Homo sapiens: one gene and its partners. The protein of the gene in region 1 purifies or fractionates together with the protein of each later gene. This does not show direct contact. Each region holds a gene or a part of one and is shown in the gene's direction. Other genes may lie near its edges.

What was found. The genes of interacting proteins can lie anywhere in the genome.
Region 2: the proteins of COPS7B (region 1) and CUL5 purify together in Homo sapiens (affinity purification with mass spectrometry; 3 studies listed by BioGRID and IntAct, with this or other methods). This does not show direct contact.
Region 3: the proteins of COPS7B (region 1) and CUL2 purify together in Homo sapiens (affinity purification with mass spectrometry; 2 studies listed by BioGRID and IntAct, with this or other methods). This does not show direct contact.
Region 4: the proteins of COPS7B (region 1) and DCAF11 purify together in Homo sapiens (affinity purification with mass spectrometry; 3 studies listed by BioGRID and IntAct, with this or other methods). This does not show direct contact.

What each region holds. Positions count from the first base shown.
Region 1 is NC_000002.12:231,792,945-231,796,444, forward strand, and holds part of COPS7B (COP9 signalosome complex subunit 7b), read left to right. Parts: intron 1-1,318; coding exon 1,319-1,407; intron 1,408-3,161; coding exon 3,162-3,364; intron 3,365-3,500. UniProt on the Homo sapiens protein: Component of the COP9 signalosome complex (CSN), a complex involved in various cellular and developmental processes.
Region 2 is NC_000011.10:108,092,398-108,095,897, forward strand, and holds part of CUL5 (cullin-5), read left to right. Parts: intron 1-1,993; coding exon 1,994-2,117; intron 2,118-2,414; coding exon 2,415-2,590; intron 2,591-3,132; coding exon 3,133-3,294; intron 3,295-3,500. UniProt on the Homo sapiens protein: Core component of multiple cullin-5-RING E3 ubiquitin-protein ligase complexes (ECS complexes, also named CRL5 complexes), which mediate the ubiquitination and subsequent proteasomal degradation of target proteins.
Region 3 is NC_000010.11:35,083,842-35,087,341, reverse strand, and holds part of CUL2 (cullin-2), read left to right. Parts: intron 1-3,500.
Region 4 is NC_000014.9:24,117,777-24,121,276, forward strand, and holds part of DCAF11 (DDB1- and CUL4-associated factor 11), read left to right. Parts: intron 1-278; coding exon 279-379; intron 380-611; coding exon 612-758; intron 759-973; coding exon 974-1,028; intron 1,029-1,368; coding exon 1,369-1,437; intron 1,438-1,782; coding exon 1,783-1,840; intron 1,841-1,934; coding exon 1,935-2,120; intron 2,121-3,061; coding exon 3,062-3,215; intron 3,216-3,500. UniProt on the Homo sapiens protein: May function as a substrate receptor for CUL4-DDB1 E3 ubiquitin-protein ligase complex.

The sequences.
Region 1 (3,500 bases):
CCTGGTACACCACATTTTTTTCTGACCTTCCCTTTGTTCCAGGGAATGTGTTCTGTTTTTCTGTCCTTGCTTACTAAAGAGGCAGCATTGCACAGACTCTGTTAGCAGACTGCCTGTAGCCAGTCTGGCTCCACTTCTACTAGTTGTGTGTTCGTTGACAAATGAAGTAACCTTATGCAGCTCAATTTCCTCGTCTGTAAAGTGGGAGTAACAATACAAGCCCATTATTCCTTACCTACACTCCTCGAAGTTAGATGTTTCAGAATTTAGAATTTTTGGGACTTTAAAAAGGTAATATGATGCGCATGCCTTTTTATGTAACACTCCCAGAGGAATGTGGAAACAAGTGGGATAAAAAGCCTGTCTCCGTACAGGTTAGAAATTCCCACCAGGTGAATTTCAGCACCATGCTTAAGAAAAAATCAGTTTGGATATAGTTTTTTGGAATCCAGAATTATCGTTAAGGAATTGAGGACACTTGGAGTCTTGCGGGTTGTTGTGAAGATGAACTGGATGTGTGTATGTACGTGTGGATCTATGCAATCCACAAGATGTAAAGCTTGCTATTTATGTTAGCTGCTGCAGCTGCTGCCCTTGCTGTTATTATCATTTATGGTTATTATTGAAATTTTGCCTCTTTCTCAAGGCTCAACTCAAACTCCATCTCTTCCATGAATTCTTTCTTTTTATCTTCTGTACTTTCCAAATGATACTGTTCTCTTTCCCTCTCCCCTCCCCTTTCATCTCTTTCTCTTACCCCTGTCTCCTCCCCATCCCTCTCCTCCTCTCTTCTAGTAGCTTGTACCTTTCTTCTGGTAGTTCTGCCTTGGATTTGTAGCTATGGAAACATCTGATTGTAAGACCGAGGACAAGTCCAGGGCCATGAAGTTGCACACCTCCAGGTGGTTGGTGGCCCTGGAGTTGTGCCATGCAGCAGCCCTGGCAAAGCCCATCTTGTTCATCCTTGATTCTTCTCAGTACAGAGCATTGCACACAACAGATGCTCGATGAAGATATGTTTAATTTAATTGAATGTCACAAGGGGCACAAATAGTACTCCATTAAGATAATTGCCACATCATTTTGCTTGTTTGCTTTTTAGGAGACTAAACTCTGTGTTTGTAGAAACTGAGTCTTTTCTTCTTTGGAAGTACATAGTCTTCCAAAGAAGACAGGAATATTTGTCAAATGAATAAGTGCAAAGTCATGATAGTGATTCAGTAGTAGATTTGGTTTGGGGAGTTGGTGAGCTTATTCCATAAAAGAAATCCTAATTTTATTTTGTGTCTTGATTTTTGTGGTGGGTGGGACTGAGCAGCCAACAAGGAGAGCCTGCCAGAACTGAGCACAGCTCAGCAGAACAAGCTGAAGCATCTTACCATCGTGAGCTTGGCATCAAGAATGAAGGTACGGTACTGAGCCTTCTCTTGTCTTCCTCCTTACCCCAAGTCAGCTGTCTCATTGACATCAATGAAGGAAGTCCCAGCTGCACATAGGAGAGTCACATCATAAATGCATAAAATTTGCTTGACAGAGGAAAAGATAAAATGGTGTAGAAAAGTACTCCCCATTCCATACAGGAAAAGTATGCCCAGAAGTGATTGACTCAGCAGGTCTTAGTCCTGGCATGCTGTGGTGCCGCATGTGGCATGATCATTTTGCCATATTAAGGGGAGACTGCTGTTAAAGATATACATTTTTCAAATAGCAAGGCATCTCAAGGCAAGTTAACAGCTTAATCTGTTGCTCAGTACACAGTGAACTATGCCCATGCTGGAGGAAAAACTTGCTATGTCGGACTTGCTAGATTTTTTGTTGTTGTTGTTGTTGAGACGGAGTCTCACTCTGTCGCCCAGGCTGGAATGCAGTGGTGTGATCTCAGCTCACTGCAACCTCTGCCTCCCAGATTCGAGCGATTCCCCTACTCAGCCCCAAGTAGCTGGGATTACAGGCGTGGACCACCCCGCCCGGCTAATTTTTTTTTTTTTTTTTTGAGACAGAGTGTTGCTCTGTTGCCTGCGCTGGAGTGCAGTGGCGCAACCTGGGCTTACTGCAACCTCCACCTCCTGGGTTCAAGTGATTCTCCTGCCTCAGCCTCCCGAGTAGCTGGAATTACAGGCACCTGCCACCATGCCCATAATTTTTATATTTTTTAGTACAGTCAGGGTTTCATCACGTTGGCCAGGCTGGTCTTGAACTCCTGACCTCAGGTGATCCACCTGCCTCGGCCTCCCAAAGTGCTGGGATTACAGGCATGAGCCACCGTGCCCGGCCTTTTTAACTTAAAAAATTTTTTAAATTGAGACAAGGGTCTCACCATGTTGCCTAGGCTGGTCTCAACCCCCTGACTTCAAGCGATCCTCCCATCTCAGCCTCCCAAAGTGTTGGGATTACAGGTGTGAGCCACTGCACTTGGTTTTTTTGTTCTTGGATTGCAATTTCAGTTGCTGAAATCATTTTATCTGATCTAATGGCACATTTCTGATTCTCAGCCTAGCATTTCAGGTGGGAGGCCTATTTTGTTGTGAAATGAGGACCTGACCTTTTTTCTTGTACTGATTGTGGACTTCTCAAGTGTAGTAAAGAATGTTGGTACAGCCCAATAAAGAACTATTGTTGGGGAATTCATATTGGTTGTGTCTGAGAAAACAGATACAAACTTCAGGGTGACATCTGAGCTGGCAGTACCCATTGGCCACCTATAGGTAGATATGCTGGCCTGCAAGTTTTTTTTGTTTGTTTTTGCACTCTGCTGGGCAAGTAGCCAGCTCTTTCCAGTGACTGGGATCTGTTGGAGATTTATGGTGATCTAGCAAAGTCTGAAAGCTTCCAGAAGGTGGCAGAGTGGCATATACTCAGTAGTTCCCTTTCTCTCCACTGGTACAAGTTTTTAGGATCTCTACAAGTATGCTGCAGCATGTGAAATCTGAAGGCTGGGTGAAGCCAAGGAGGCAGAGAACCAGGAGGTTGCTTTCTTAGATGTTGGGTCTTCTAGGTCTCATGGTTCATTTATCCACCTCTTGTTGCCCTAGCTATTAATAATTACCACTAGCCTGCGTTTCCCGAGCCTAGAGGCAGCTGTTGGCTATGGGAGTAATACCTGCATTTTCGCTAATGCTTGCCAGATGGTTTTTATAATGATCACATGGCCTTATCTACAGTGTATCCCCTACTCCGTGTTGCTGAAAGACCTGGAGATGCGGAATCTCCGGGAACTAGAAGACCTTATCATTGAGGCTGTCTACACTGACATCATCCAGGGCAAGCTGGACCAGCGAAACCAGCTGCTGGAAGTGGATTTCTGCATTGGCCGTGACATCCGAAAGAAGGATATCAATAATATTGTCAAGACCCTGCATGAATGGTGAGGCTAAAAGGAGGAGGGGGATATCTAGCATGTCTTTTGTGCCTCTCCTTGCAAAAATGTGATTCCCTGGTGTCAGCTGAGGGTTTGGGGTGGGCCTGTAGCTACCTGGGAGCTGGGGCTTAGTGAGCCGGAG
Region 2 (3,500 bases), on another chromosome or scaffold:
AAACAAATGTTCATGGCAAGATTACTAATAATAGTCAAAAAGTGGAAACAACCCAAAATGTCAGTGAGCTAATGAATAAAATGTGATTTATCCATACAATGGAATATTTTTTGTGATAAAAAGGAATAAACTAATAATACATGCTGCAATATTAGGTGAACTTTGAAAACATAATGCTGAGTGAAAGAAGCCAATCCCAAAGACCATATCGTATGATTCCACTAATGTGAAGTGTCCAGAATAGGCAAATCCACAAATTCCAGGAGTTGGGGCCAGGAGGGGAAATGACGAGTGACTGTAAATAGTATGGGGTTTCTTTTTGGGGTGATGAAAATGTTCTAAAATTAGATAGTGGTGATGGTTGCACAGTTCTGTAGATATACTAAACTTCATTACACTGTATATTTTATTTTTATTTTTATTTTTTATATTTTTTTGAGACAGAGTCTCACTTTGTTGCCCAGGCTGGAGTGCAGTGGTGCGATCTTGGCTCACTGCAACTTCTGCCACCCAGGTTCAAGCGATTTTCCTGCCTCAGCCTCCTGAGTAGCTGGGATTACAGGCGCATGCCACCATGCCCAGCTAATTTTTGTATTTTTAGCAGAGATGGGTTTCACCATGTTAGCCAGGCTGGTCTTGAACTCCTGACCTCAGGTGATCCACCCGCCTCAGCCTCCCAAAGTGCTGGGATTACAGGCATGAGCCCAGCCAAATTGTATACTTTAAAATAGTAGATTTTATGGTAGATAAATTATCTGACACAGTAAAGCTGTTAATAAAGAGTAGTTTGAATAGCTTTTGCCTTCTTGTGTAACTTGACAGAGTAAGCATCTTTTCTTTGCCTTGGAGAGTTGTCACACCCCCTGTAATTTGGATGATCTTCTAGCATTTTATCTTTTGGGCTGTCAGTGTCATGAAATACTGAGAATTCCTTTATAGCATTTTTGCCAGGATCACTTCTTCTAGGGTATCTTATCTTTTTTGTCACTCACCACTTTTATCTTTTATGTTGGTAATTTGCTTTCACTAAGTTCCTCAACACTGGCATTGTCAGCCTTACTACCACAGTCAGCTTTCTTCTATAACTCCATTTATGTTCTATTTTATTTTCATTTCCAGCATTATCACTTTTCATTTCCTGTTTACTTTTATATCTTTGCCAATTATCTTGTTTGATTATTCTTTTTTGTAAGTAGTCATGTGGGTTTATTACTGGAAGACAAGGATGCAATGAAACTGCATACTTTGCTGTCTGCAGTTTAACTGAATAAACAAATGACTAATAGGTTGTGTTTACATTTTTTAAAAATTTATTTATTTAATTTTTTCAAGCAACAGGATCTTCTGTTGCCCAGGCTGGAGCGCAGTGACACAATCAGAGCTTAAACTCCTGGGCTCAAGCAATCCACCCACCTCAGCCTTCCGAGTAGCTGGGACTATCTCGGCAGTATGCCGCCATATCCTGCTAACTTTTAAAATTTTTTTGTAGTGATGGGGGTGTCACTGTGTTGCCCAGGCTGGTCTTAAAATCCTGGCTTCAAGTGATCCTCCTGCTTCAGCCTCCCAAAGTGCTAGGATTACACACCATGCCAACTAATAGATTTTGAAAGAAGTATTGTGGTTAGTCATTGTTACTTTTGTCATGATTTGTGGATCAAAGAGCTAGAAATAAAGTTTTTACTTCATGCAGTTAAATTTATTATATAGTGTCAACTGAAAGTTGAGCTTTGTTCTTGGGGAATTGGTATTATTTAACTGTACTGTGGTAACTGAAATTCATACATACTAAAAATGCGCAAAGCAGGGACCCCTTGTAATACCGTATTTTGTTTCTAAGTAGCAAATTTCATAGGTATTAGACAATAAAATTCTAATAAATGAGAAAAATTTTGTATTAAAACATTTAAGACTTAGTTTTTCTATTAAAATTTTTCCCAGTAATATATCAGATTATGTATTTATTACCTCTTCCTTCTTTGGTTTATATTTATAGGAAGTTGGTATGCCAGCGGATTATGTAAACAAGCTTGCTAGAATGTTTCAGGACATAAAAGTATCTGAAGATTTGAACCAAGCTTTTAAGGAAATGCACAAAAATAATAAATTGGCATTACCAGGTATTATTTTATAATTACATGTATATATTTTTTAAACTTAGAAGAATATCTTTGTTTTCCAGTAAATTAAAAATAAACCTCAGCAGTAATAGATCGAAAGATGTTATGAAGTCCATTTCCGTGGAGACAGCTATCAAAGCAGTGTGTTAGATTTACAGATCTTTATTTCAAAACAAAAGGACACTTTTAACAAAATCTTTATAGTCTTATTGATTTTTCACCCAAAGTTACCCTGTATTTATTTTGAATTTTATCCATTGTTAATTTACTTTATATTCCTGATATTCTTCTCTATAGCTGATTCAGTTAATATAAAAATTCTGAATGCTGGCGCCTGGTCAAGAAGTTCTGAGAAAGTCTTTGTCTCACTTCCTACTGAACTGGAGGACTTGATACCGGAAGTAGAAGAATTCTACAAAAAAAATCATAGTGGTAGAAAATTACATTGGCATCATCTCATGTCAAATGGAATTGTAAGTAGATAGTGTGTTAGTTATTTCAGCTTTCAGTTTGGATGAAAGTAGCAGGACTCCGCAGAATTGCTTAAACAAAATAGATTTTTGCCTCTCTCACATGTAAAAGTTTGAGCAGAAATAGTGAATTTTTTTCATGAAGTTGATAGGGACATAGGCTTCTGGTTATACCATCATACTTAAGATACTGCCGTTGTCTACAGAATTCAACATGATCCCAACTATCTCAGTATTCCTGGCAACAGAAAGCAAAAGGTGAGGGTAGCTTACACCTTTCATTAGGGACAACTTCTAGAAGTTTCCTCTGTCATTTTCCATTTGCATCCGCCAGTACTCAGTCACTTGGCCACATTTTGTTACATGGAAAGCTGGGAGATGAGCGTGTATTCTGGGCAGTCATTAACGTCTTCTAAAATGTTTATTACTGTGAAAGAGTGGATACTGGAAGACAGCAACCTTTTTCATATATAAATTCATGTCATAGATATTAAGAGAGAATCATCATGAGATTCTTTATTAAAAATCTGTTTTATCTATTATAGATAACATTTAAGAATGAAGTTGGTCAATATGATTTGGAGGTAACCACGTTTCAGCTCGCTGTATTGTTTGCATGGAACCAAAGACCCAGAGAGAAAATCAGCTTTGAAAATCTTAAGCTTGCAACTGAACTCCCTGATGCTGAACTTAGGAGGACTTTATGGGTTGGTTTATGTTTTTTTGTTTTTAAGACTGTATCCTCTCATGTAGCAGGAAATATATGATTGGCTTGTAATATATTAGTAAATTCATAACAGTTTCAGAATGTCTTATCAAGAAAAATAGAGGCCGGGCACAGTGGATCACGCCTGTAATCCCAGCACTTTGGAAGGCCGAGGTGGGCAGATCACTTGAGGTCAGGAGTTCGAGA
Region 3 (3,500 bases), on another chromosome or scaffold:
GCATTTATTTATTGGTATACTAATGTTTTGAACAAAAACTGTATTCACATGGCTCAAAATTTAAGATGTTAGTCTGGGCAACATGGTGAGACCCCATGTCTACAAAAAATAATTTAAAAAACATTAGCCAGGCGTGGTGGCGCACGCCTGTAGTACCCGCTGTTGGGAAGCTGAGGCCAGATGACCAGGTTGGAAGTGGCAGTGATCTGTGATTGCACCACTGCACTCCAGCCTGAGTGACAGAGTGAGACCCTGTCTCTAAAACAAACAGAAAACCAAAATATAAAATTGTCAGTAGGGAATAGAATGAAAATCTCCCTCCACTTCTTGTACCCTTGTCATCCAGCTTTCCTTGGAGCCAAACATTGTTAGCTGTTTCTTAGATCTCCTTGGAAAAAAATATTTGTGGACATATAAGCAAATATTGTTCCCACTTTGCAGAAACAGTAGTACACTTTACTTTGACATTTGTATTTTTTAGAGTGTTAAATAGTAGTTAAGTTATGAAATAGGATGAGAACACAGAGAATGTAGAAAGAGGATAAAACTGTGGAGTACTGCAGCATTTTCTGATTTGGTCCCTGCCCTTGTTAAGTTCATTTATTTATTTATTTATTTATTTTGAGATGGTGTTCGCTCTGTCACCCAGGCTGGAGTTTGTATTTTTAGTAGAGATGGGGCTTCACCATGTTGGCCAGGCTGGTCTCGTTAAGTTTTTGACCTACAGGTGTGGAGTTGTTTAAAAAGCTGTTTCCGGCCACGTACGGTGGCTCAGGCCTGTAATCCCAGCACTTTGGGAGGTTGAGGTGGGTGGATCACTTGAGCCCAGCAGCTTGAGACCAGCTTGGGCAACATGGCGAACCCTGTCTGTACAAAAAATACAGAAATTAGCCAGGTGTGGTGGTGCAGGCCTGTAATCCCAGCTGCTAGGGAGGTTGAGGTGAGAGGATTACTTGAACCCAGGAGGTGGAGGCTGCAGTGAGCCACTATACTCCAGCCTGGGTGACAGAACTAAGAGAGTTTCATTGTGTTGCCCAGGCTGGTCTCGAACTCCTGGGCTCAAACAATTCTCCCACCTCAGCCTCCCTAAGTGTTAGGATTACAGGCGTGATCCACTGTGCCCGGCCTTGTTTCTTGTTTCTTTTTTTTTTTTGAGACAGAGTCTCTCAGTCTGGAGTGCAGGGGCTCAATCTCAGCCCACTGCAGCCTCCACTTCCCGAGCTGGGACTACAGGCGCCCTCCACCACTCTCAGCTAATTTTTGTATTTTTAGTAGAGACAAGGTTTCACTATGTTGGCCAGGCTGCTTGTTTCTTTATTTTTATCTTTTTCAACTTTCATTTTAGATTCAGGAGGTACACACGTAGGTTTGTTACCCGGGTATATTGTGTGATGCTGAGGTTTAGGATACAATGATCCCGTCACTCAGGTGCTGAACATAGTACCCAACCGTTTTTCAACCCTTATGCCCTTCCTCCCTCGCTGTAAAAAGCTGTTTCTTTTTGTGAGACTTTACAAAAGTTTGCACTGTTTGTTTTGTGTTCTACCTTATCTGCCTGTTCTTTGTGTATTCTGGAAAAATGTCTGGCTGTGATTGAAAGCAATGTTTCATATGCACTATCAGTTTTTTTTTTTTTTTTTTTTTTGAGACAGAGTCTGGCTGTGTCTCTGGTTCCCGGGTTCACACCATTCTGCCTCAGCCTCCCGAGTAGCTGGGACTACAGGCGCCTGCCACCATGCCCGGCTAATTTTTTGTATTTTTCATAGAGATGGAGTTTCACCGTGTTAGCCAGGATGGTCTTGATCTCCTGACCTTGTGGTCCGCCTTCCTCAGTGTCCCAAAGTGCTGGGATTACAGGTGTGAGCCACACCGCGCCTGGCCCTAACAGTTATTTTTATTTTTATTTTTTTTTGGGACGGTGTCTCGCTTTGTCGCCCAGGCTGGAGCGCAGTGGCGCGATCTCAGCTCACTGCAAGCTCTGCCTCCTGGGTCTACGCCATTCTCCTGCCTCAGTCTCCAAAGTAGCTGGGACTACAGGCAGCCGCCACCATGCCTGGCTAATTTTTTGTATTTTTTTAGTAGAGACGGGGTTTCACTGTGTTAGCCAGGATGGTCTCAATCTCCTGACCTTGTGATCTGCCTGCCTCAGCCTCCCAGAGTGCTGGGATTACAGGTGTGAGCCACCACACCCAGCCAGTTATTTTTTATTATTATTATTTTTTGAGATGGAGTCTCACACTGTCACCCAGGCTGGAGTGCAGTGGCACAATCTCGGCTGACTGCATTCTCCGCCTCTGGCATTTAAGAGACTCTCCTGCCTCAGCTTCCCAAGTAACTGGGATTACAGGCGCCCACCACCACCCCCAGCTAATTTTTTTGTATTTTTAGTAGAGACGGGGTTTCACCATGTTGGCCAGGCTGGTCTTGAACTCCTGACCTCATGATTCACTTGCCTCGGCTTACCAAAGTGCTGGGATTACAAGTGTGAGCCACCAGGCCTGTCCAACTATCAGTTGTTTTTAAGTAAATTGATGACAGGATCAGCCCTAGAATCTTAATATTATGAGGACTTATGACTGGCTCATGTTAAATCTTGGAAAAACAAGCAGCGATTTGGAATGTTATGAGATTTATAACAAGTTATTGATCTATGAGATGTATGACTGAACCCTCTCTCAGTAATCAGTTAATCACAATATCTATTCAGAGTGATTTGGCTCTGTGCCTGGGTTTGAATCTTACTGGTAACGTATCTGTCATATTGCAGTTAGCATAATCTTTGGGTTACCTTTAAGAATGTATAGATTTCTATATCAGTACTTTATATTTGGCTTTTCATTGGGAAAGGCTTATTGGAGACAATCCCTTTGATTCTTAAAAGTTTTGAGACAGTAGTAGTGTTAGGTTAAGATTGTGGTGTTGGATCTGTAGAAACTTCCGGGGTGCCTTGAACCCTGTTGATTTTTCTTTTGGAGGAGGAGAGGTGGAATATTTCCTTTTGCTTTAAGCTTTGTTATTCTGGAGAATTAAAAATTCAGACTGATACTGTGTCTTGTTTGCTTGTTTGAGACAGAGTTTCACTCGTCACCCAAGCTGTAGTGCAGTGGCGCGATCTCAGCTCACTGCAACCTCTGCCTCCTGGGTTCAAGTGATTCTCCTGCCTCAGCCTCCCAAGTAGCTGGGACTATAGGTGTCTGCCACCACACCTGACTAATTTTTATATTTTTAGTAGAGATAGGGTTTTGCCATGTTGACCAGGCTGGTCTTGAACTCCTGACCTCAAGAGATCCGCCCTCTTTGGCCTTCCAAGGTGCTGGGATTACAGGTGTGAGCCACTGTGCCTGGCCTCTTTTATATAGTTTAACATTATAAATAATGTTAGTTACATCTATTAATTCAGTGACTTAGTCTTTCTCTATTGTAGGTTGCTTTTCAAAGAATGAAACATGGATTTGCCATATGTAAATTTTTAAAAATATCTCAGCCTTGTTTTAATTCAG
Region 4 (3,500 bases), on another chromosome or scaffold:
CTTATCTCCTAAACTTTGAAGGGGTAGGTGTTAAAGGAGCCTCAGAGATATTAAAGGTTAGGTTAAATGGGGTTGAAACTTTGAGAGTAAACAAAGTAGAAAAGTGTAGAAAATTGTAGAAATTTAGAGGATGGTGGAATGGTTGAAAGACGGGATTGCACTCACAGCCAAAAGGGAAGAATGACTGTTCTGATATTCCAGCTCTGTTAGGATTCTGCTGATTGGGACACTCCTTATCCTGAGCACCCCTCACCCTCACTTTCTCTCTCCTTCCCTAGCTTCTTGCCCAATGATCTGGGCTTCACTGATAGCTACTCTCAGAAGGCTTTCTGTGGCATCTACAGCAAAGATGGTCAAATATTCATGTCTGCTTGCCAAGGTACCAGACCCTGGTCCTATAAACTATCTTTTCCTGGAACATGGGACATTCCCCCTGACTGAGGCTAGAAAGCCACAGACGGGGAGCTCAGACCTGGCTTAAGGATGCTTAGCCAGACCATGTTTCCCATGATAAAGGGAAGACTCCACAGGTACACTGAGTGGGAGATGTCTAATCTAGAAAAGTTACAAGGAAACTGTCCCATAATTCTGCCTGATCTTTACTTACACAGACCAGACAATCCGACTCTATGACTGCCGATATGGCCGTTTCCGTAAATTCAAGAGCATCAAGGCCCGCGACGTAGGCTGGAGCGTCTTGGATGTGGCCTTCACCCCTGATGGGAACCACTTCCTCTACTCTAGCTGGTCTGATTACAGTGAGTATGCACCAGGCTTCCACTGACTCTCCAGCCTGGGACCTGAGGTTTCCATGTGCCTGTCCCCTCTGAGCCAGGATCCCTCACTTTGTCCTGGGAAAATCACTCCCAAAGTGCTCCAGTACCCTTGTCCCCTGTTTGATCTCTTCCCTAGCTTCACTTCCACTCTTCTTCCCCCATCCCTGAAAGATTCTTGTTTTTCTTGCTTCTCTTAGTTCATATCTGCAATATCTATGGTGAGGGAGATACACACACTGCCCTGGATCTCAGGTACTGGCTTCCCTTTCTGGTCAGACTCATCAGAAACTTCTCAAGGGAAGCTCTTTGGGAGCAAACCTCTTGAGTTGGAAGTTCTGTTTAGGGGAAAAAGTATACTGGTGGGTCTGTGTGCATTCCTGGGAGGGAAGCACCATCTTGTCAGCCAGAGGACTGGGTAAAATAGATGGTTGCAGGATGATTTCTGGGTTCTCACTGAGCATCTGCATTATGGTGCATGTTAGCCAGACTTCTTTTTTCCCCTGGGGATGTGCCTTACAACCGTTGTCAGATTTTATGTAGATTAACAAAAGCTGAAGGAAGTCCACTTAACCCAGCTCCTTCTTGCTTTTAGGCCAGATGAGCGTCGCTTTGCTGTCTTCTCCATTGCTGTCTCCTCAGATGGACGAGAAGTACTAGGAGGGTAAGTGCTTGTGGGGTATGTTTCCCTCAATAACAAGATGGGGGTTCTGCCAGAGATGAGTTCTGCTGTTACACAGATGGCACTGGCAGCTGCAGAGAACAACCAGACCTTCTCCCAAGGTCAGGATTTACAAGTTGCTTCACCCCTTGCTCTCCATTTCCCCAGCACGAGATTGGAGGTGTCAAGCCTCCTTGAAACACAGCTAACTCTTCCCCCACTTCCTGTATAAAAAGAGCAAAGGGCTTGACCCAGAGCAGGATTTCTCAGTGGAACTCTCTAGAGCATATACCACGTTGGTCCTCTCGATCATGGCTCCAGGACCCTCCTTTATCCCTTCCCTTTCAGGGCCAATGATGGCTGCCTGTATGTCTTTGACCGAGAACAGAACCGGCGCACCCTTCAGGTATGGCTCCTGAGATAGAGCCTCTGCCTCCTGGTTTTTGGCTTTTTATAAGACCTAGAAAGAGGTCTTATATCCTGGCCTCCTTTTCGCCTAGATTGAGTCCCATGAGGATGATGTGAATGCAGTGGCCTTTGCTGATATAAGCTCCCAAATCCTGTTCTCTGGGGGAGATGATGCCATCTGCAAAGTGTGGGATCGACGCACCATGCGGGAGGATGACCCCAAGCCTGTGGGTGCACTGGCTGGACACCAGGATGGCATCACCTTCATTGACAGCAAGGTGGGCCAGAAGTCAGGACTGTACAGCCAGGCCGCTAAGGTTCTAGTTGCCCAGGAGGGCATGAAAGCGGACTGGTGTGGGAATTTGACAAGCTCCTTATTAACCAAGGTTTGTAAGAGTTGGAGTTTAGGGAAGGGGCTCAAGCCAGGGAACATGAATTCCATCTGTACTCACCAGTCCTCAAGGAGCAGGGCAGGGCTTTCCGTACAAGAAAAATGGAAGACCGGTCAGGTACAGCGGCTCACACCTGTAATCCTAGCACTTTGGGAGGCTGAGGTGGGAGGATCACTTGAGCTCAGGCGTTCCAGACCAGCCTGTGAAACCTAGCGAGACCTCATCTCTATTTATTTAAAAAAAAAAACAAAAAAAAAAAACTAAGGCCAGATGCCGTGGCTCATGCCTGTAATCCCAGCACTTTGGGAGGCCGAGGCGGGCAGATCACGAGGTCAGGAGATCGAGACCATCCTGGCTAACATGGTGAAACCCCGTCTCTACTAAACATACAAAAAAATTAGCTGGGTGTGGTGGCAGTCGCCTGTAGTCCCATCTACTCAAGAGGCTGAGGCAGGAGAATGGCGTGAACCCGGGAGGCGGAGCTTGCAGTGAGCCGAGATCACCCCACTACACTCCAGCCTGGGTGACAGAGCAAGACTCCATCTCAAAAAAAAATTAGTTAATTAAAAATTAAAAAAAGAAAAATGGAAGACAATCTGATTAAGGCTAGAATAGGAAAGCCGGCCAGTAGCCTGGGCAAGGAAAGGAAAACCTAGCCAGGTGGTAGGATCTGAGGCAGAACGCTGGAAATGAGTTCACCTGGATGAAGAGAGGCAAGTAAAGCCAGAGGCCAGAGTTCTTCTGCTCAACTAGAGAACGGGAACTAGACTGACAGGCGCCGACATTTGCAAGCTCTGATGCTTCACTATCCACCTTTGGATTCATAGGGTGATGCCCGGTATCTGATCTCCAACTCTAAAGACCAGACCATCAAACTCTGGGATATCCGACGCTTTTCCAGCCGGGAAGGCATGGAAGCTTCACGCCAGGCTGCCACACAGCAAAACTGGGACTATCGGTGGCAGCAAGTGCCCAAAAAAGGTGAGACTGGAAGTACAGGCACAGTGGATTTGTCTGTAGCCTGGGAGCCCTGGAGGACCTCCCCCTCAGCCCTCTTTGCCAGGCATTAACTCTTTATTTGCTAAATCATGGATGGAATGGCCAGAGGTTCCTAGGATTGGGGCCTGGGTGGGGGTCACTCAGAATCAACCAATATAAAAGTATGTGAGTGTAATGATTAACCGGCAGGGCCATATTGGAGACTGTCCACTGACTATTAGGTGGAGAAAGAGCCACCACTTGAAGATTGGAAAGGCATTTGTCTCT